Regions from separate parts of the Homo sapiens genome. Here region 2 is linked to region 1. Evidence: fine-mapped expression QTL. Tissue or cell type: nasal epithelium. Region 1 holds a variant in brackets; the other region holds the start of a gene. All regions are shown on one strand. Distances are between the middles of the regions.

Region 1 (9,019 bases):
CCCTGTCCTCTGCCAGGCGGAGCTCCTGGTTCTCTGGGTCTGTAATGCTTTCCTTCTCACTTCTCAGACATCACTGCTTCTGGGGAGTCTCCTCTGACCTCAGCACACTGCTTAGAAACCCCTGCTTGGTGCCTCCATAGCCCCTTCTGCATCTTCCCCAACATGGCCCCCCACCCTGTGAGGCCCACTAATGGCCAGTCCCCTGCCCCAGGATCCCCTCCAGGGCTAGGACTGAGCCACTTTCCTCTGTGGTCCCAGTGCTCAGCCCAGGGCCTGGCCTGGCAAAGGCCTCGGTGACGGTAATGAGGGGAGGGAGCAATGCACCCTTCGTTTGTTCCTCAGGCCTGTGGCCATGGGGACAGCTGAGATGCTGAGACCACTGTGTCCAAAGCCCAGGCCTTTTCTGGGGACAGATAGGTCAGCGGGACGGATGGAACCAGCTCTGTGACTCACATACCCATTGTGCCTGCTGCGGTGATCCTTTAAACGACAGTTAGGTTTGATCCTGCGGGAGGTGGGTGTTTGGAAAGGTTTTGAGCAGGGGAGTGGCCCCCCTGAAGCAGAGTGTGGCCCGTGGAGGCTGGGGGGCTGGGAGGCGGCTGTGAACTTCAGGAGAGAGGAGGGGGAACGGGGCTGTCCTGGGGAGAGTGGGGAGAAGTGGGGAGCAGCCTGGAACAGTGCCGGGCACCTGGTGTCCACAGCCTGAGCTCCTACCTGGAGACCCCTGGATCAGGGAGTAAAGAATTCTGGGCTGCAAGTCAGAAGAAATGCTCCCCAGGGGCTTCAGTGGCTCCAGAGTCTCAGGAATCATCTCTGGATGGGTGACTGGGGCAAGGGTGGGCTGGGGCCCTGGTCTTAGTCTCCTCATCAGTCAAGGAGGGCAATGTGCTTTTTGCCCTTGACTCTCCTCTGACCCTGGCCCTTCATACCTGGATCTGGCTTGGGAGCAGGGTGAGGCCGAGGCCCACAGAAGCCATAGGGTCAGCCTAAGAGCAAGAGTGGAAAAAGAAAAATCATGAAGCAATAATGAGCCCGTGGTACATCGAAGGGGCCATTGAATCCCCGTGGACTCAGGACGACAGTGGCTGGAACAGTGGTTGTCTATGTGTGGCTGGAGTGTGTGCAGAGGGGCCAGTGCTTGAGCCTGAATCTTCACAGCCCCTCCTCCATACATGCAAATCCTAACAGTATGTTATTATTGATATGTAAATATTAGCTATTAGCTTTTTAAACAATAATTCCTCCTCCTATTGCTATTGTGGCTCGTTCATCAGAGCACCCTTCAGATCAGTAGGGGTTGGCCAGGTGGCGAAGGCCTGCAGTTAGAGCATGGGGAGACTGCGTGAGCAGGTGCAGAGGTGGGAAACAGCAGTTGCAGGAACCATAAGTGGCTCCGTGGAGCTGACGTGGTGGAGGACAGACATCACCTGGGCTTGGGCTTGATGGGTCAAGGGGTCTTAGGTGCTAAGCTCAGGAGGGATGGCAACCCAGAAACCTTGAAGGTGGATAAGGAAGGGGAGATGGGGTCTTAGGAATATGTGTCTGGTGGCGCGTGTGGAAAATGACGGTGCTAAGGCTGGGAGGACTTAGAGGCCAGTGGGGAGGCCCAGGTGCTGATGCCACTGTGGACATTCCTGAGCCTCTCAGCTACCTGAGGCCGCACTTCCACCCAAAAAGAGTCCTTGGCTGGGCCGGGTGTGGTGGCTCACACCTGTAATTCCAGCACTTTGGGAGGCCAAGGCAGGTGGATTGCTTGAGGCCAGGAGCTCGAAACCAGCCTGGCCAACATGGTGAAATCCCACCTCTACTAAAAATAACAAAAATTAACCAGGCATGGTGGCACACGCCTGTAATCCCAGCTACTTGGGAGGCTGAGGCAGGAGAATCTCTTGAACATGGGAGGCGGAGGTTGCAGTGAGCCGAGCTTGTGCCATTGCACTCCAACCTGGGCAAGAGAGTGAGGCTCCATCTCAAAAACAAAACAAAGAATCCTCAGCTCTTTCTCCCATCCCACCACCTTCTCCTACCCTTTCCTGCTGGGTGTTGGGGCAGCGGAGGGCTCTCCCCTTGGCACCCTCAGCCTCTCTCGGCTTTCCTGTGAAAAACCAGGCCGATGCCTGCCGACTTGTGAGAATAAATGATAAAATCTGTGACGCTCCCAGCACTGCCTGGGGAGAGGAAGGAAAGTGTTGTCTTCCCTAAATTCCTATTTCTGCGTGTCGTTTATTCTCTTCCCTGTCAGAGAAGTTGTTTTGCTTCCTGGGGACGAGAGAGGCCCGCGTTCACGGGAGCGCGCCCGCAGGCCCCATCCAGGCAGGTCGGCGGCCACGGAATTCATTTGTATCCCCAATTTCCAGGCTGCCTCGTGAATCTGCAAGAGCCCTGCTCCTCATGTGCTGTGGAGAGTGCATCGTGTTGTCCCTGTGACTGATTTCTGATCCTCCCTGCATTTATTTGTTTATTTGGGTCTGAGAAGTCCAAAGTGAAGCTGTGAGAAGGGGCGCCTTTGAGTTTTAATACGGGATGCACCATCATATAAGGACACTTTGGTCAACAGCAGACTGCGTATGTGACGTTGGTCCCATAAGATTATAATGCCATCTTTTGACTGTACCTTTTCCACGTGTAAACACACAAATACTGACCATTTCATTACTGTCGACTGCAGTACTCGGTACAGGACCATGCGGTACAGGTGTGTAGCCCAGGAGTGACAGGCGACACCCTATCGCCTAGGTGTGGGGGAGGCGAGACCGTCTGGGTTTGTGTAAGTCAACTCCAAGACGTTCACACAGTGACAAAATCGCCTCGTCATGCATTTCTCAGAGTGTGTCCCTGTCGCTAAGCGATGTGTGACTGTTTATATCTGTGGTACTTTGTAGGCGTTGGGGGCATGGGCTGGGTTTGTAGGTTCCCCTAGGTGAGCAGTAGTGTCCCAGGCATTGAGGAGGGCTGTTTCCAGGTCTGTCCGGGTGTCGTTTTCCGTGGAGGAGAAGTTGCTCAAGAAGATGAGCCCAGGCTAGCCCACAAGCCCTCACCCCCTCGCAGACCCAGGTGGCTGCAGGAGGATTCTAGAGGAGACTGGGTTCTGCCCGCCAACAGGGGGCTCAGCCACACCCCCCCACCCCTGGCCCACCATAGGACTTAGTGCCCACTTGGGATGCGGTCAGAATATTTTTAGGTTGAATGGGCGCATGAGGGTGGGGAGACGCATGCGTCAGATACCGGCTGGATGACTTCATGTATGTTGGTTGACACATTATACAGCTGGGGAGACTGAGACTCAGAGAGGCTGAGGGTCTTGGCTAAGATGCCCAGCAAAGAAGTCTTCATACCACATCTGACTCCCCGCTCCCTTGAGAATTCCCGTCACCTAGAGCACCCGTCCCAGCCCCTGCCGCAGTGCTGGGGAGGATCAGTGGAGACCAGGGTGGGGGGACCAAGCACGATCTCAGACCTCCTGTGTACCGGGGCACTTTGCCTACACAGTCTCATCTTCAGTAGATCTCTTTCCTGGTTTTCTGATCACAAAAGTGAGGCTTAGAGAGGTGATCAATTTGGGCGAAGTTTCCCAGCAAATAGGTGGAGTGTCCCATATTTCAATTCTGGCCTGGCCTGGAGAGGATGGGGGGCTTCAACCTGTCTTGGTGGGATAGCCTGGGCTGTGATACCGGAGGCATCACTTTCCCACCAAGAAAGAGCAGGAGGGTCTTTATGGGGGCAAACAGGGCAGGGAGCTCCCCCTCGGACCCCTGGGAAACATGGGGCTAGATTGGGCCCGACACCAGCCCAGTCCCTTTGCAGCCTACTCCAGCCTTTCTCTTCCCTTTTTTTTTTTTTTTTTTTGAGACGGAGTCTCACTCTGTCACCCAGGCTGGAGTGCAGTGGCA[C/T]GATCTCGGCTCACTGCAACCTCTGCTCCCCGGGTTCAAGCGATTCTCCTGCCTCAGCCACCCGAGTAGCTGGGACTGCAGGCACACACCACAACGCCTGGCTAATTTTTGTATTTTTAGTAGAGGCAGGGGTTTCACCATGTTGGCCAGGCTGGTCTCGAACTCCTGACCTCAAGTGATTTGCCTGCCTCGGCCTCCCAAAGTGCTGGGATTACATGCGTGAGCCACGCGCCTGGCCCAGCCTTTCTCTTTCTGACTTCACTTGCCCCACCTGTGCAGTGGGAGGACAGGAGAACCCCTTTGTCTGTTGAGTGCTGATTATGTGCCAAGGAATTTGCTGCATGATCTGATCTGATGGCCCCAGTGACTCTTTGAAACCCGGCCCCTTATTGGCACCACCCAGTCACTCCCTGGCTGCGTTTCCCTCAAGGCACGTATCGCTGTCTGAAATGACCATGTCTGTTCACTCTCATGTCTGTGTCTACCTCCCAACCACGCAAAACCTGTGGGAGGGGAAGGCCTTCTCTCTCTTGTCCACTCCTGTGTCCCCAACCCCTCGGACAGCACATGGCTTCACAAGCTTCTCAAGAAATGCTTGGCAAATGATGGCAGAGTGGGTTAACCCTGGTGTTCTCAAAAAGGGAATGGAGGCCCACAGAGGGCAGGCCCATCCCTGGGTCACACTGCCAGGGCAGGATTGGAGCCCCTGCCTGTCCAGGGTCAGCTGGGGCCTCTCTCACTGACCAGCTTTGAGCCTGGAATTCCAGGTGTGCCTGGCTGTGTCCTTGCAGGTTCACACCGCCCAAAGAAACTTCCAGTCCACACTTGTGGCTTTGGATCAGCTCAGAAAAAGTGTGTCCTGTGACTGCTCGAGGAATCTGGGCATTTAGCCCAGAAAAGAGTGTGTTTCCTGGCTTCCTGAGAACTGGGGCCCACCCTGCCCCTGGTCTAGGCGTGCAGAACAGGAGGGAGGGGAGTTGAAATCGGGGCCTGGAAGGGTACGGCGTCAGACCTTATCATCTGAGTGAGGCTTGCCGCTCACGCTGAGACTGTCCCAGCCGAGCACTCCAGGAGAGGGTATCCCCACCATTGGAGCGTCCTTAGAGATGGCAGCAGCGCCTGGAGTTGCTGGAGAAGAAACATTCCTCACGCTCATGCGAATGTTTCCCTGGGCTGCTGTCCCAGCACTGGGTACCGTGGGGCAGACATGGGTGTGACGTTTTCCAAGCACGAGGTGACCAGTGTCCATTGGGTCATCAGGCCTCCAGGGCCACATGTTTGGAAAGCTATTCCTGGAGCACCAGGCATCTGGCACCTCGCTCTGTGGCTAGGCACGGGTTTATGAGGGGACCCTGCAGAGAGCTGGGGTCCTCAGCCTTGACATTTGCACATTGTGTATAATTTCACGCTTTGCTTTGCTTTTTTCTCTTCATTTTTTTCTTTTTTTGAGACAGGGTCTTGCTCTGTTGCCCAGGCTGGAGGGTAGTGTCGTGATCTCGGCTCACTGCAGCCTTGACTTCCTGGGCTCAAGGGATCCTCCCACCTCAGCCTCCCAAGCAGCTGGTGCTACAGGTGCATGCCACCACAGCTAATTTTTGTATTTTTTGTGGAGATGGGGTTTCTCCACATGTTGGCCAGGCTGGTCTCGAACTCCTGACCTCAGGTGATCCACCCACCTCAGCCTCACAAAGCGCTTTTGTTTTTCTTGAGAAAGATCAGAGCTTCCCTGCTGCATCTCCCGCTTTTCGCTTGTGTTTTCTTTTCTTCCTCACCAGCAGGCTGCCTGGTGACTGGCCTGGGGGCCTCTTCCCTCAGACCAGGAAATCACCCAGTACTCCGAGAGTGTTCACTAGAATTACCCTCATGTTCACTGGAATATACTGGTCAGATTTCTGAGAGGGAGACCCCCTTTTTGTACTCATAGGAGAATGGAGGAGGCCGGCCATGCTTCTCCTCAGCCACGATTGAAAAAGTCACCTAGCACAGTGGCCTGAGTCCACTGGTTCCCAAATCCCAGACCCAGGCCAGGCCTAGGGCCGTGTGAAGTCTTCCGCGGACCCACGGTGAAATAAGAAAAGGAAGGCCTGGCTTGGCATAGCTACTTTCCATGTCAGCTGTTTTTTCTTTTTTTTTTTTTTTTTTTTTTTTTTTTTTGGAGGCAGAATCTCACTCTGTCGCCCAGACTGGAGTGCAGTGGTGCGATCCCAGCTCACTGCAAGCTCCACCTCCAGGGTTGAAGTGATTCTCCTGCTTCAGCCTCCTGAGTAGCTGGGATTACAGGTGCCTGCCACCACACCCAGCTAATTTTGTATTTTAGTAGAGACAGGGTTTTACCATGCTAGCCAGGCTGATCTCGAACTCCCGACCTCAGGTGATCTGCCTACCTCGGCCTCCCAAAGTGCTGGGATTACAGGCGTAAGCCACCACACCCGGCCTGTCCTTTCTTTTATGAAAGATGGTGATACTAGGTGGACGTTTTATTTTAGATGCCAGAAAACTCTGGCAACCTATGTCTATCTTCAAAATGTGGGAGAGGCTGTCCAGGCCTGTGACACCTCCAGGCCCGGAAGCCATTGATGTACTTCTGTACCCCAGACACAGAAGTGGAGCCCGGGGCAGACTTTGATGCCTCAAGAACCTCTGAGTCATGGCCACACGTGAGCCCCCGGCTCTGCCCTGGTGTGCGGTGGGGCGTATTGGTTTCCTAGGGATATTATAACAAATTACTGCAAACTGGGTGCTTGAAAACAATAGAAATTCATTCTCTCTTGGAGAATCCTGGAGGCGTGATGCCTGAAATCAGGCTGGTGGTAGGCTCAGTTCCCGTGGAGGCTCTGACAAAGCACCTGCCGTGCCTTTTTCTGGCTTCTGGCAGGCGCTAGCCACCCTCCTTGTTCCTTGTTCCGTGTTCCGTGGCTCGTCTACACATCCCTCCAGTGCTCGCCTCTGTCGCCACATGGCCTTCTTCCTTGTGCGTCTGTCTCTGTGTCCATCCCTCATAGAAAGACACCCGTCATTGAATTTGGGCCACCCTAATCCCATGTGACCCCAGCTTAACTTGATTAGTATCTCCAAGTAAGGGCCTATGCCCCAGTTCCAGATAGACAAGGGTTTGGGGGGAACATTACTCTGGGGGCGTAAGGGATGAGGAGGGCAGGTCCAGGGAGCCTGCCCTCATTCCCAGGAGGAGACAGGAGACCAAGGAGCAGAGTCTGGCGGGGGAACGCTGTCACCACAGCAAGGGCCAGGCTGGGGCCACAGGGGGTGGGTCAGACACGCCCACTGAATACTCAGGGGCACGGGAGGGCCGGGATCCCCCTGACTCTCTGCATCCCAGATTCATTCCTACGCTTTCATACAGGCCCCAAAGACAAGTGCTGAGTAGATCTGGGTCTTCAGCACGATGTTTTTTAAAAACAGGCTTGCAGCGTTTGGTCCTTTGGTGGCACCAGCCAGGACCACTGAGGGCTGAGAACGTCTCAGCGCCCAGCATAGGCCGCCAGCCCTGGCTCTGCTCTTTTGGGTTAGAGAGCGGCCCCTCCCAGTAATGACAGGGCCCGCCATTCCCGGCAGCGCCCACCAGCACAGCCTCCCCCGCTTTGTGGACAAAGGGCAGCCTGTGGGGCAGGAAGGAGGGAATCCAGCCTCCCCTGTTCCCCCAGAGGCCTTTATCTATTTTGGCAAAGGCCCTGTGATCAGACGTTTCCGCCCTGACAACTCCCTGCCAAGTGATCTCAAGCAAGGGAGTCCCAGAGCCCTGCTGAGCCCCACTTCTCTCCTGTGAAGTAGGAGGCACAGTTCCAGCCCTGACCCTCTCAGGAAGGCTGGGGATGACAAGGCAAACCCTTCCCGTGCCTAGCCCAGGGCCTGGCACATAGTAGGTGCTCAGTCAATACTGAATGAGAGAGAGCATCTTGGAGCCCAGAACGTAAATTTCATGCCACTCCTGCGACGGAGCCTCAGTGGGGCCTCTTGGGAAGGAGAATCTATAGGCATTTCCTTCCCCACGTCCTAGGACACAGTTAGCTGAGACGACCGGGCAGGGGTGGGGAAGTTGAGTGCACGGGTGTAGCACTGGACGGAGGACAGAGGCTGCTAAGCTGCATCTCAGGCATTGATTGGCATTGAGGAAAACCCACCTAGACTTGGTATCGCGGGAGGGAGGGTCATGTGCAGGGAGCCCTGGAAGGGAGCCTGGAGAGCTGGGTGCCAGCCCTGGCTCTGCACCCCTTACCAGCCATGTGCAGGTCATGGCAGTGCCCTGTGGATCCTACTTCCTGAACCTCCCCTCTGCAGGCTTGATGCCACTGCTGTCATTTCGGCCTCTATCCCACAACTCGCACAGGGCTTGCCTCACCTTTAGGCCTTTGCACGTGCCATGCCCTCTGCCTGGAGTGCCCTGCCCCTATTCCTCCACTCAGAGCTGCTTCCCGTTCCGAGGAAAAATCCCATGCCCCAGGTAGACTGCACGCACATTTTCTTGTGTTTCCACACCCTGCTTTGCAGAGCAGCGGGCACCCTGGTTGTAGTTTAAGGGACGCCTGAGAGCCCCATTGAGGATGGAGATTGGTCCCCCTTGCCTGGCACACGCTTGGTGCCCAGCACTTGTGTGTCCATTGAGTGAGCAAATAATGGAATGTCTGGAGGCATGTGACGCCTCTGCTGTGTGGCTTGGTTTCCCCATCTTTAAAATACCAGATGTGGGCCAGGCGCAGTGGCTCTCGCCTATAATCCCAGCACTTTGGGAGGCTGAGGCGGGAGGATCACCTGAGGTTGGGAATTCGAGACCAGCCTGGCCAACATGTTGAAACCCTGTCTCTACTAAAAATACAAAAATTAGCCAGGTGTGGTGGTGCATGTCTGTAATCCCAGCTACTTGGGAGGCTGAGACACGATAATTGCTTGAACTAGGGAGGCGGAGGTTGCAGTGATCCAAGATGGCACCACTGCACTCCATACTGGGCGAAGACCGAGACTCCGTCTCTAAGTAAATAAATAAAATAAAATACTGGATGTGGACTGATGGAGTCCTTGGGGATCTGGTGAAACATGAGGCCTCAAGTGAACGGACTCGGGTCTTTCCTGCTCCCAGGAGTGGAATGGGAGCGTGGCAGCGACCACGCACACGT
Region 2 (9,019 bases), 22 kb before region 1:
TCAAGCAACAAATTAAACATTTTTTAAGTTAAATAACAAAAAATGAGCCAGCTACTTTATAAAGTGAGCCATATGATGATGTGATGACTCCTACATCCCTATCCTGACCGAAATTCCCCCGGGTCATCAAGTAACAGGAAATCTTAGAAGGTCAAGGTTGACAGGACTCTTGGAGACCCATCCCCACATTGTGCTAGGCAGGAAGTGGCCCGGGGTCACACAGGGAGTGGTGGCAGGGCTGGGGAGGAGGTGGAGAGGGTCCCAACTCCTTCTGCAGCCAGCAGGGTTTGCTGCTCCTAAAAATGTGACTTAACTGCTTAAACTCTCCTGGAAGTTCTTGGTGGGACACCCAGACATCAGTATGTGGCGAAGAGCCCAGCAGACAAGACACCCCCATTTTGTATAATGTAAAAAATGAATCCCCCAACGCAGTGGCCTTTGCAGACACCCAAGGTGACCCTAAAGTTGATCATCCAAAGCAAGACACTTGCAGAGGGAAAGGGGTTGCTGTCAATAATCGCACCCGGATGACAAGAGCGAATGAATCCTTCTGGGAAAATTGGAACTCACCCCCTACAAAAAATCCCATTACCGGGAAGATGGCAAGAAGATATTTTGTAACAAAGGAACTTCAAAGGAACATGGCCTGATTCTAAGTTCTTCTTGCCTCTCCTCTCTCCCCCATTACCCCCTCCCCCAATACTAACAACAATAAAGGACTTGAGTTAACCTGGATTCAAATCCTGGCTATTTTCTGAGCCTCAGTTTCTTCATCTATAAAACATAAATCATGACCCCTATCTCAAGGGATGCTATAAGAATTAACTGTCTCTTACAGAGCCAGATGCAGAGAAGGTGCCCGGCAAGCGGTAGTTTCTCTTCCCTTCGTGCAGAGAAATAATGAAACAACACATACTGAATCCTGAAACTCTTTGGGGGTGAACGGAGACAGACTTTCTCCCAGACCAGTTGAACAACGCCTCGGTGGGCAGAAGTGTGAGGCAACGTGTGCAGGGAGACGCTCATCCTAATTCTGGGTGTCATTTTGCAAAGCACTGCTTCACGATGACTCATTTTGGGACTCCCTAAAAACTCCTTTGAGTTAAAAACAAAAGTTGAGTGGGATTCAGCTTGCATTGTACCTTATCACTCTACTGTGCCCTCGTCAGTGTATCAGAGTACTGCAGGGAATTCAAGAATCTCTGAGCAGGCTAACCCTGATATTTGCCCCATAGTGTCACCAGGAGCTGGGACCATCTGCACAGGGCCCAGGACAGAGGGAAAGAAGTGGCCATGAGGGATGGAGGAGGAGGAAGGCCAGGAAAATGGGGTGCATGGGCCTCCCCTACCCTGCTCCCATCCAAGGGGGAGGGGGACCCCCAATGCAAAAGCACTCCTGGGTCCTCCTACCTATCCCTGCTTTATTTCTCCATCAAACTTTTTTTTTTTTTTTTTGAAACAGAGTCTTGCTCTGTTGTCCAGGCTGGAATGCAGTGACATGATCTCAGTTCGCTGCAACCTCAGCCTCCTGGGGTCAAGCAATTCTCCAGCCTCAGCCTCCCGAGCAGCTGGGATTATAGGCACGTGCCACCATGCCCAGCTAATTTTTTTATTTTTAGTAGAGATGGGGTTTCGCCATGTTGGCCAGGCTGGTCTTAAAGTCCTGACCTCAGGTGATCCACCACCTCGGCCTCCCAAAGTGCTGGGATTACAGGGTGAGCCACTGCGCCTGGTCTCCACCAAACTTCTTATCTTTGAAATGCCAGACATTCACAGTGTCTTCCTCCCATCCCACTCTCCCACCTTGGCTGAAGCCCCAAGAGAGTCAGAGCTAGATTTTTGTTCACTCCTGTATCCCAGGACAAGGCTTCTTTATTCCCCTAACACTCAGCCTGCCTGCAGCCAGACCTACCTCTGTTGATTATCATTGGCTGTGTGACCTGGGACAGATTGCTTGACCTCTCTGAGCCTCGGTTTCCTAACTGGAAAATGAGGACATCACAAGTATCTGTCATACGGGTTCTGTGAAGCTGGGGAAGGGCTTTGCAAGCAGTAAAGTCTTACATAGATATTGTGTGTTGGGGGTGGGGGCAGTCCTTTCCTCCCAGTGGCCTGGTGCGGCTCTCAAAGTTTCCTTCAAAAGGGAGTTTCTGGTTCTTGCTCTGTAGCTTAACTGAATAGCTGCCAGAACATGGGACCTGCCCTCCACACAGTGGGCCCCTACTGACTTCTCCCACTCCCTCATTCAGGCCTCTGCTCAGATGTCACCTCATCAGAAAGGCCTTCTTCCAGCACCCCCTATAAAAAAGCACCCCTGGGTCCTCCTACCCTTCCGAGTTATTTCTCCACCAAACTTCTTTTTTTTTTTTTTTTGGAGACAGAGTCTCGCTCTGTCACTGAGGCTGGAGTGTAGTGGCGCGATCTCGGCTCACTGCAAACTTCGCCTCCCGGGTTCACGCCATTCTCCTGCCTCAGCCTCCCAAGTAGCTGGGACTACAGGCGCCTGCCACCATGCCCGGCTATTTTTTTGTATTTTTAGTAGAGACAGGGTTTCACCGTGTTATCCAGGATGGTCTCGATCTCCTGACCTTGTGATCCGCCTGCGTCGGCCTCCCAAAGTGCTGGGATTACAGGCGTGAGCCACCGCGCCCGGCCCAAACTTCTTATCCTTGAAATGGCAGATATTCAGTGTCTTCCTCCCACCCCATCCCTCCCCCTTGACTGAAGCCCCAAGAAAGGGCCATATTTTGTTCACTCCTTTATCCCAGTGCCTAGAAAAGTACCTGGCCCATGGAAGGTGCTCATAGATGTGTCGGGTGAACCAATGACTGAACTAATGTTTGCTGCATGAATATGGCCAGTATCACAAATCCTCTAGTAACACTGCAATACGCTGTCTCAGAACTTCGATTTCTTTCTATTATTTGTTGCAGTGTTTATTTCTTCTATTTAACTTTTCAATCTGTCTGACATTTATTGTGGTGTATATCATGGGAGGCAAGGCTGTAAACAGATCTCCAGCTAAACGGCTAAACAATTTGCAGAACAATCCATTTCCTCCCCATTGGTTTGTGATGTCTGCATTTTCATCCACAAGAGCTGGGACCAGGCCCGCTCCTGTGGGCCAGCTGCTGCCTCGTCTGCCCTCTTGTTCCAGAAGCCCAGGGCTATGCTGTTCCTGAGGCAGGGCTGCCTAGTGATTGGCCACACAGGCACTGGAATTAGACAATCTGCCGTGCACTTTCCAGCTCAACCACTTACCATCTGGGTGACTTTGAACAAAAGAATTTGCTTTTTATTGTTGTTGTCCAGGTTGGAGTGCAGTGGTGCGATCATAGCTCACTGCAGCTGCTAACTCCTATGCTCAAGAGACCCTCCCGCCTCAGCGTCCCGAGTAGCTGGGACTGCAGGCAGGCACTACCACACCCAGCTAATTCTTACATTTTTCTGTAGACATGGGGTTTTGCTATATTGCCCAGGCTGGCCTCAAACTCCCAGCCTCAAGGCATCCTCCCACCTCAGCCTCCCATAGTACTGGGATTACAGGTGTGAGCCACCGCACCCAGCCTGAAATTTCATTTCTAAGCCTCAAAGCCCATCTGTAAAATGGGCACAAGGGTAACGTTGGCACACGTGGTGGACGCTCCGTTGGTGTCATTATTACAGATCACGGCCAGTTGAAGCACTTCCACTCATTTGGCAAACAGAAGCCAGACGGGCATTCACCCTGTGCCCAGTACAGTGCTGCGCCCAAGCAGGCAGTCAGTGTCCCTGGCTCCAGCCCTCCTGGGGTGCAGCACAGTTTTGAATGTGGAGGGGAGGCAGCAGGGGTGGAAACAGCCCAGCCAGGAGCGGCCGCTCTCGGTGCGGGGAGGAGGTGAAGTGAGAACTGAGCTGCTTGGGTCTCAGGGAGGCTCTGACTTCTAGAGGGGGCGTTCAACATTCTTTAGTGGGGACTTTTACTACTTCCAGAAACCTCTGCACATTGGCTCTTGCTGGTCCCCCGGGGGCCACAGGAAGTGGGAGCTCCAGATGAAGAGTCGCTGGCACTTTGAGGGCAGGGGGCAGGGCCTTCCCCTCATCGGAATACTCTTGGAGCCTACTTCAGTGCCTGCATTCAGCTGGTGCACAATAAGTGCTTGTTACTGTGCCAATTTCAGTATGACTAGGGCTGTGGTAGGAGCAATGCTAGGCGATGGGGAATCCGAAGACGCACAGGAGTCCAAGGGTTGGCTGACTGCAGACCCTCATCATAAGTCTAGAGCCGGAGAAGATGGGGAGACGCCGGCCTGCGCCCTGTGAGTCTGGGCCTCAGTCTTCCCATCTCTGAAATGGGGAAGGGGTTCCTCGGCCGAGCGGATCGGCCGCAGAACTCGGCGGAGTCGAGGGGTCCAGGCCCAGGAAGGACGCCGCCGGGGCGCCCCCCGCCCCTCAAGCTTGCGTGGCGGCAGCGCGCACGAGCGCTGGGGGCGGCGCGGCCCCGCGGCGGGGAGGGGCGGGCGCGCGGGCGCGCGGGCCCGCGCAGGCGGTGGCGGCGGCGGCGGAACCGAGCTGACGGGCGTGCGGCCGCTGCGCCGCAAACTCGTGTGGGACGCACCGCTCCAGCCGCCCGCGGGCCAGCGCACCGGTCCCCCAGCGGCAGCCGAGCCCGCCCGCGCGCCGGTGAGTCGCCTGGGGCTGGGGCCGGGCCGGTGGGGCCCCGCGGCCCGGAGAAGGGCGGGGGCCGGGCGGCGGGGCCGTCACCCCCAGCCGGGCCGAGGGCGGGCGCGCGCCCACGGCTCCGCGGGGGAGAGCGGGAGGCGGGCGCGAGTGTGGCCGCGCGGGGCTGAGCGTGTCGGCGGCCGGGCGGGCGGGGGCGGCGTGTCCGCGTGTCCCGGGGTGTGCGCGTCCCCGGCGGGTGTGCGTGTGCACCCCGGAGCGTCTGGTGGCGTTGTTGGGGTGAGTGCGTGCGGGGACGCGGGCATGGCTCCCCGCTACCCACTTCCCGAGTGGGGACGACGGGCGGAGGAGTGTGCCGGGCGCCGCAGGGAGTACGTGCGGGTCTCAGGGAGTGTGTGTGTGCACGTGTGTGCATTCCAAAGTGATTTGTGTGCAAGCACATGCGTGAGCCTAGAAGGGCGAAAGTATGCCTGTGTGGGTGTGAGTATAACGAGTGTGCAGGGCCGTGCGAGCGTGTTTATTACTGAGGTTGAGGGGCCGGCCCCCTTTGCGCCCACCAGGCCTTTGCACAGTGATGGCCCCCGAGCCAGGGAGCCCGTGGAGAGAGAAGCGGCCTGGCATGGGCTGGGGGTCGGGGCTGGGCCTGATCCGGTGAACCAGGGGCCAGGAGGGCAGACTCAGAGCCTGGCTGGGCCTGACAGAGGCAAAGGTCTTAGAGCCAGGCTGCGGCAGGGCCACTGGCAGGACCCTCTCTGCATACACAGGCTGGGCGAGCGGAGGCTGTGGTGGGCCCCTCGGCCGGGCACCCGAGGACGTGTGTTTTCCTAAATATCCTCCAGGCTCTCCTGTCTTTGTTCTTGTCTCTCTCCAGCCAGGCCTGGGGGGCTGACCCTAGACTTGCCTGTGTATGTGGGGGCCTCTCTGCCTGCCCTGCTAAGTAGACGGATCTTTTGATTTATTTATACCTCTCCTAGGCTCCAAGTGTGAATCCCAGGACAGTAACAAATTGATCACAGCGGGCTTGGGACACCAGCTTCCGAGGTCTGTCCTTGCAGTTTTGACTGACAGGCTTTTGTGTGTGTGCGTGCTCTCTAACTGTTGAAAATCTTTGCAGCTGAAAGTCTTAATTGCTTTAAGGCAAACTTTAGAAATTCCAGAGCTCCCTAGTTGGTCTGACTTTTCCAAATTCAGCTTGCCTTTTTTGGGGGAAAATGTCGCCTTAGTTTGGTGTACAGTACGTGCAGGCAGGTCTTGGAGGCACGTTTAAAAACCCTGTCGTTAATGGAAGAAGAATTTCATTGAAAGGGACGCAGAGCCGTCTGGAAGCGCCTGCCCCGGACTCAGCGAGTTTGGACTCAGCGAGTTTGAGCTTACCGAATGAACTTTGGACGTCTTCTTTTAGCAAACAAAACCTGGAAGGAAGCAAAAAAGACCCACATTCTTTTTCTTTTTTCTCCTGAAAATGAAAAAAAGAAAACACCTTCTGGGTTTGCTGGAAATGCCCCCTCTCCTTCCCCCATCAAGGCCAAGCCCTCGCTGCGTCCCCCACCCCCAAATAAAATATGCCTGTGGGGAGCCGTGGAATGAGTCACTCCCTGGCAGAGAGCCTGACGGGCAAACATTTGGGAAGGTTCTTGCCTAACTTCCCAGAAGAAAAGGCCCAGGATTTAAAATGGTCCCTGTGGTTTGTCAGCCTCTGCTGTCCCGTCTGCTTCGGAAATGACTAAAAAGTAGTTTGTATCTCCACAAAATAAAGTCTCAGACTGAAGGCCTTAGACCCAGGTTGGTCTGGATTTAGAGCTGTTTGGGTTTCCAGAAATGGAGCGCCTGGCTTTAACTGGTGGCATTTCTGGTGGGTTTGAACAAGGGCAGAGGAGGGAAATGGGGAGGAAGTTCCCTTTTGCGGAGCAGAAGGGGCTGTGTGCTGGGAGCCGTTCTAGGGGGTGTGAATCTCCCGTTGGTCTTCTGTGACAGAAAATGCTTTTGGTTTTGTGCACAAGGAAACTGAGGCACACGGGGGTCAAGCCTGTGTCCTGGGGCAGCTGAGAGGAGGTGGGGGCAGAATCCGAAGTCACCTGCCCAGCCTCACAGCCTTTCCTCTTTCCATTGCACTTGGGATATGGTATTTGACTGGCTAAGGTGCACAGACCTAGTGCTGAGTACTTTAGCACACATCCGTTCATTTTCTGCTCATCGTAGATAGGGTTTATTATCCCCATTTCACAAATGATAAAACTGAGGTTCAGAGACATGACTTGCATAATTTCATTAAAGTAGCACCACGATAGATGGTCCCCATTTATTTTTATTTATTTATTTATTTATTTTTGAGACAGAGTCTCACTCTGTTGCCCAGGCTGGAGTACAGTGGCGCAATCTCAGCTCCCTGCACCCTCTGCCTCCTGGGTTCAAGTGAGCCTCCTGCCTCAGCCTCCTCCTGAGTAGCTGGGATTATAGGCAGGTGCCACCACGCCCAGATAATTTTTGTATTTTTAGTAGAGATGGGGTTTCACTGTGTTGGCCAGCCAGGCTGGTCTCGAACTCCTGACCTCAGGTGATCCGCCCGCCTTGGCCTCCCAAAGTGCTGGAATTACAGGCATGAGCCACCATGCCCGGCCATGTCCCCATTTACTGAGGATATACTGTGTGCTAGGTCTGGTGCTGTATTTTACCCAGTCCACTCACCAACACTAAGATGGAAGCTGTCACGATGCCCATTTACAGATGAGGAAACTGGGGCACAGAGAGATGAGAGAATGCGCCAAAGACCATGTGCTAATACGCAGCAGAGCTGGATTTGAACCCAGGCTTGTCTGAGCAGAGCCCATGGTCTCCCCACTGTACTAGGAAGGTAGCAGGCACTGTGGGCTGGATGCCTGGCCTGTGCTGAGGTTCAGTGTCGTTTTCCTGATCTTACAGAGAGGGAGGTTAAGTAACTTGGGCAGGGTCATAAACCCACAAATGGCAGAGTCGGGATTCGAACCCATGTCTCTGATTCCAGAGTTCCTCACCTTAAACCACATCTGGCTGCCTTTGTCGTGCTTTGCTCCTGTTGCATGCTGCAAAGCCAAGTAGGTTAAGACAGGCTAGGTTCCTGCAGGGCTGGGTTGCCCGAGACCTGGGAGAGGTCTTCCAGAAGGCACTGCTGGCCTTCCTCGCCCAGGGCCAGAGCTACTGGAGAGAAAGGGCTGCTGTTCACATTTTTTCTTTTCTTTAAGTGCCCCAGATACTTTTCATAAGGGAAGTGTCAAAACAATTGTCAAAAGGAGAAGAATATTTCCTTCCTCTTCTCAGGCTAGACCAAGCAAGGGAGTTGGAGGGTGGAGAGTGGAGGGACCTGGTGAATCATCCAAGATTAAATACGGGCAGGCACTGCCAGGCTTGTGTGGAGATGAGGCTGGGACACTGTTCGCAGGAAGAGTCCGGTGTTCTGGCCCCCTGATGTCACCTTCACGGGCCTGACTCACAGTCCTAAATATCTGACAGCGAGATCGCTTGTAGGTAGGCTTCTTGTCACTTGTCATTTAAGTCCCCTGCCTGCCTTTTTTCCCTGCTCATTTCCATTTCGATCACGGCTTCTACTACATGTGCTTGAAATGAATGTTGTGTGTGAGGACCTGTGTGGTTTGGGCCATGTTGTGCCCCCCTGCCAGTGTCCTTCGGTGTTGAAAGGAAAAGGTATTTCTCTCCCTTCCATGTATGTTCTGCAAATTGACGAACATTTGCAAATTGCTTTGAGATGCGTTAATTTAAGGTGTGAAATAATAGATCTTGTGCGAAGGCTCAGCCACATTTCTGGCATTGATGGATTTTTCTCCCGTCTGGCCTGTGATTTGGGGAGGTAAAAATAGTCCTTTTTTCCACATTTTTATCTTTTTTTTTTTTTGCTGACATCATTCTTAGGAAGTGGTGTGCACATGCCGTGGAACTTTACATGGAACATGGAGCTCTGGGGAGCAGGAGTGCTCTTGGAGTGAGGGGTGGTCTGCGGTGGCCCAGGCACCCCCTGGCTGTCCGTGAAATGGCTTTGAAATGAGCAGGCACTGTTGAGGGCCTCAGTGGCTTTTTGGTATTTGGCTGTCTTTTCACTTATGACTCTTGGGTAATGGCAAGATAACTTTTGGGGAAAATGTTAGTTTAAAAAGAAAAAAAATCAGGCCAGCACTTTCACTCATTCCTGTCTGAGCTGGTCCCTTCCTTTGGCCAAAGCTGAACTAAACCAATGGCCTTCTCAGACTCGACTTCCAGACAGAGGAGCCGACATTGGGGCAAATCAGTTGGTGGTGTAATTTCCTGTGATGTTAACTTTGGGAACTTGAACTTGGAGTGGGAGCTAGCATTTTGACATGTGTCCCTCTAA

What was found. PIP is the estimated chance that this variant, and not a neighbour inherited with it, causes the effect.
Region 2: it holds the start of NEK6, and the variant in region 1 is fine-mapped to the expression of NEK6 in nasal epithelium (TOPMed, PIP 0.95).

Annotation. Positions count from the first base shown.
Region 1 is chr9:124,275,474-124,284,492 of GRCh38, forward strand. The region is part of intron 1 of NEK6 (NIMA related kinase 6); the gene reads left to right. Among named protein-coding and RNA genes, the nearest start is that of NEK6, 22 kb to the left of the region's middle. RefSeq lists a silencer at 7,297-7,591. The variant C/T (reference allele first, on the strand shown) is at 3,891.
Region 2 is chr9:124,253,424-124,262,442 of GRCh38, forward strand. It overlaps NEK6 (NIMA related kinase 6), which reads left to right and starts at 4,526. Exons shown (of 10, transcript NM_014397.6): 1 at 4,526-4,662. LOC613206 (a long non-coding RNA gene) reads right to left here and starts at 7,745. Exons shown (of 2, transcript NR_149024.1): 1 at 7,671-7,745; 2 at 5,787-6,071. RefSeq lists enhancers at 798-1,177, 1,188-1,277, 1,308-1,397, 5,143-6,088 and silencers at 4,546-4,675, 4,736-5,105.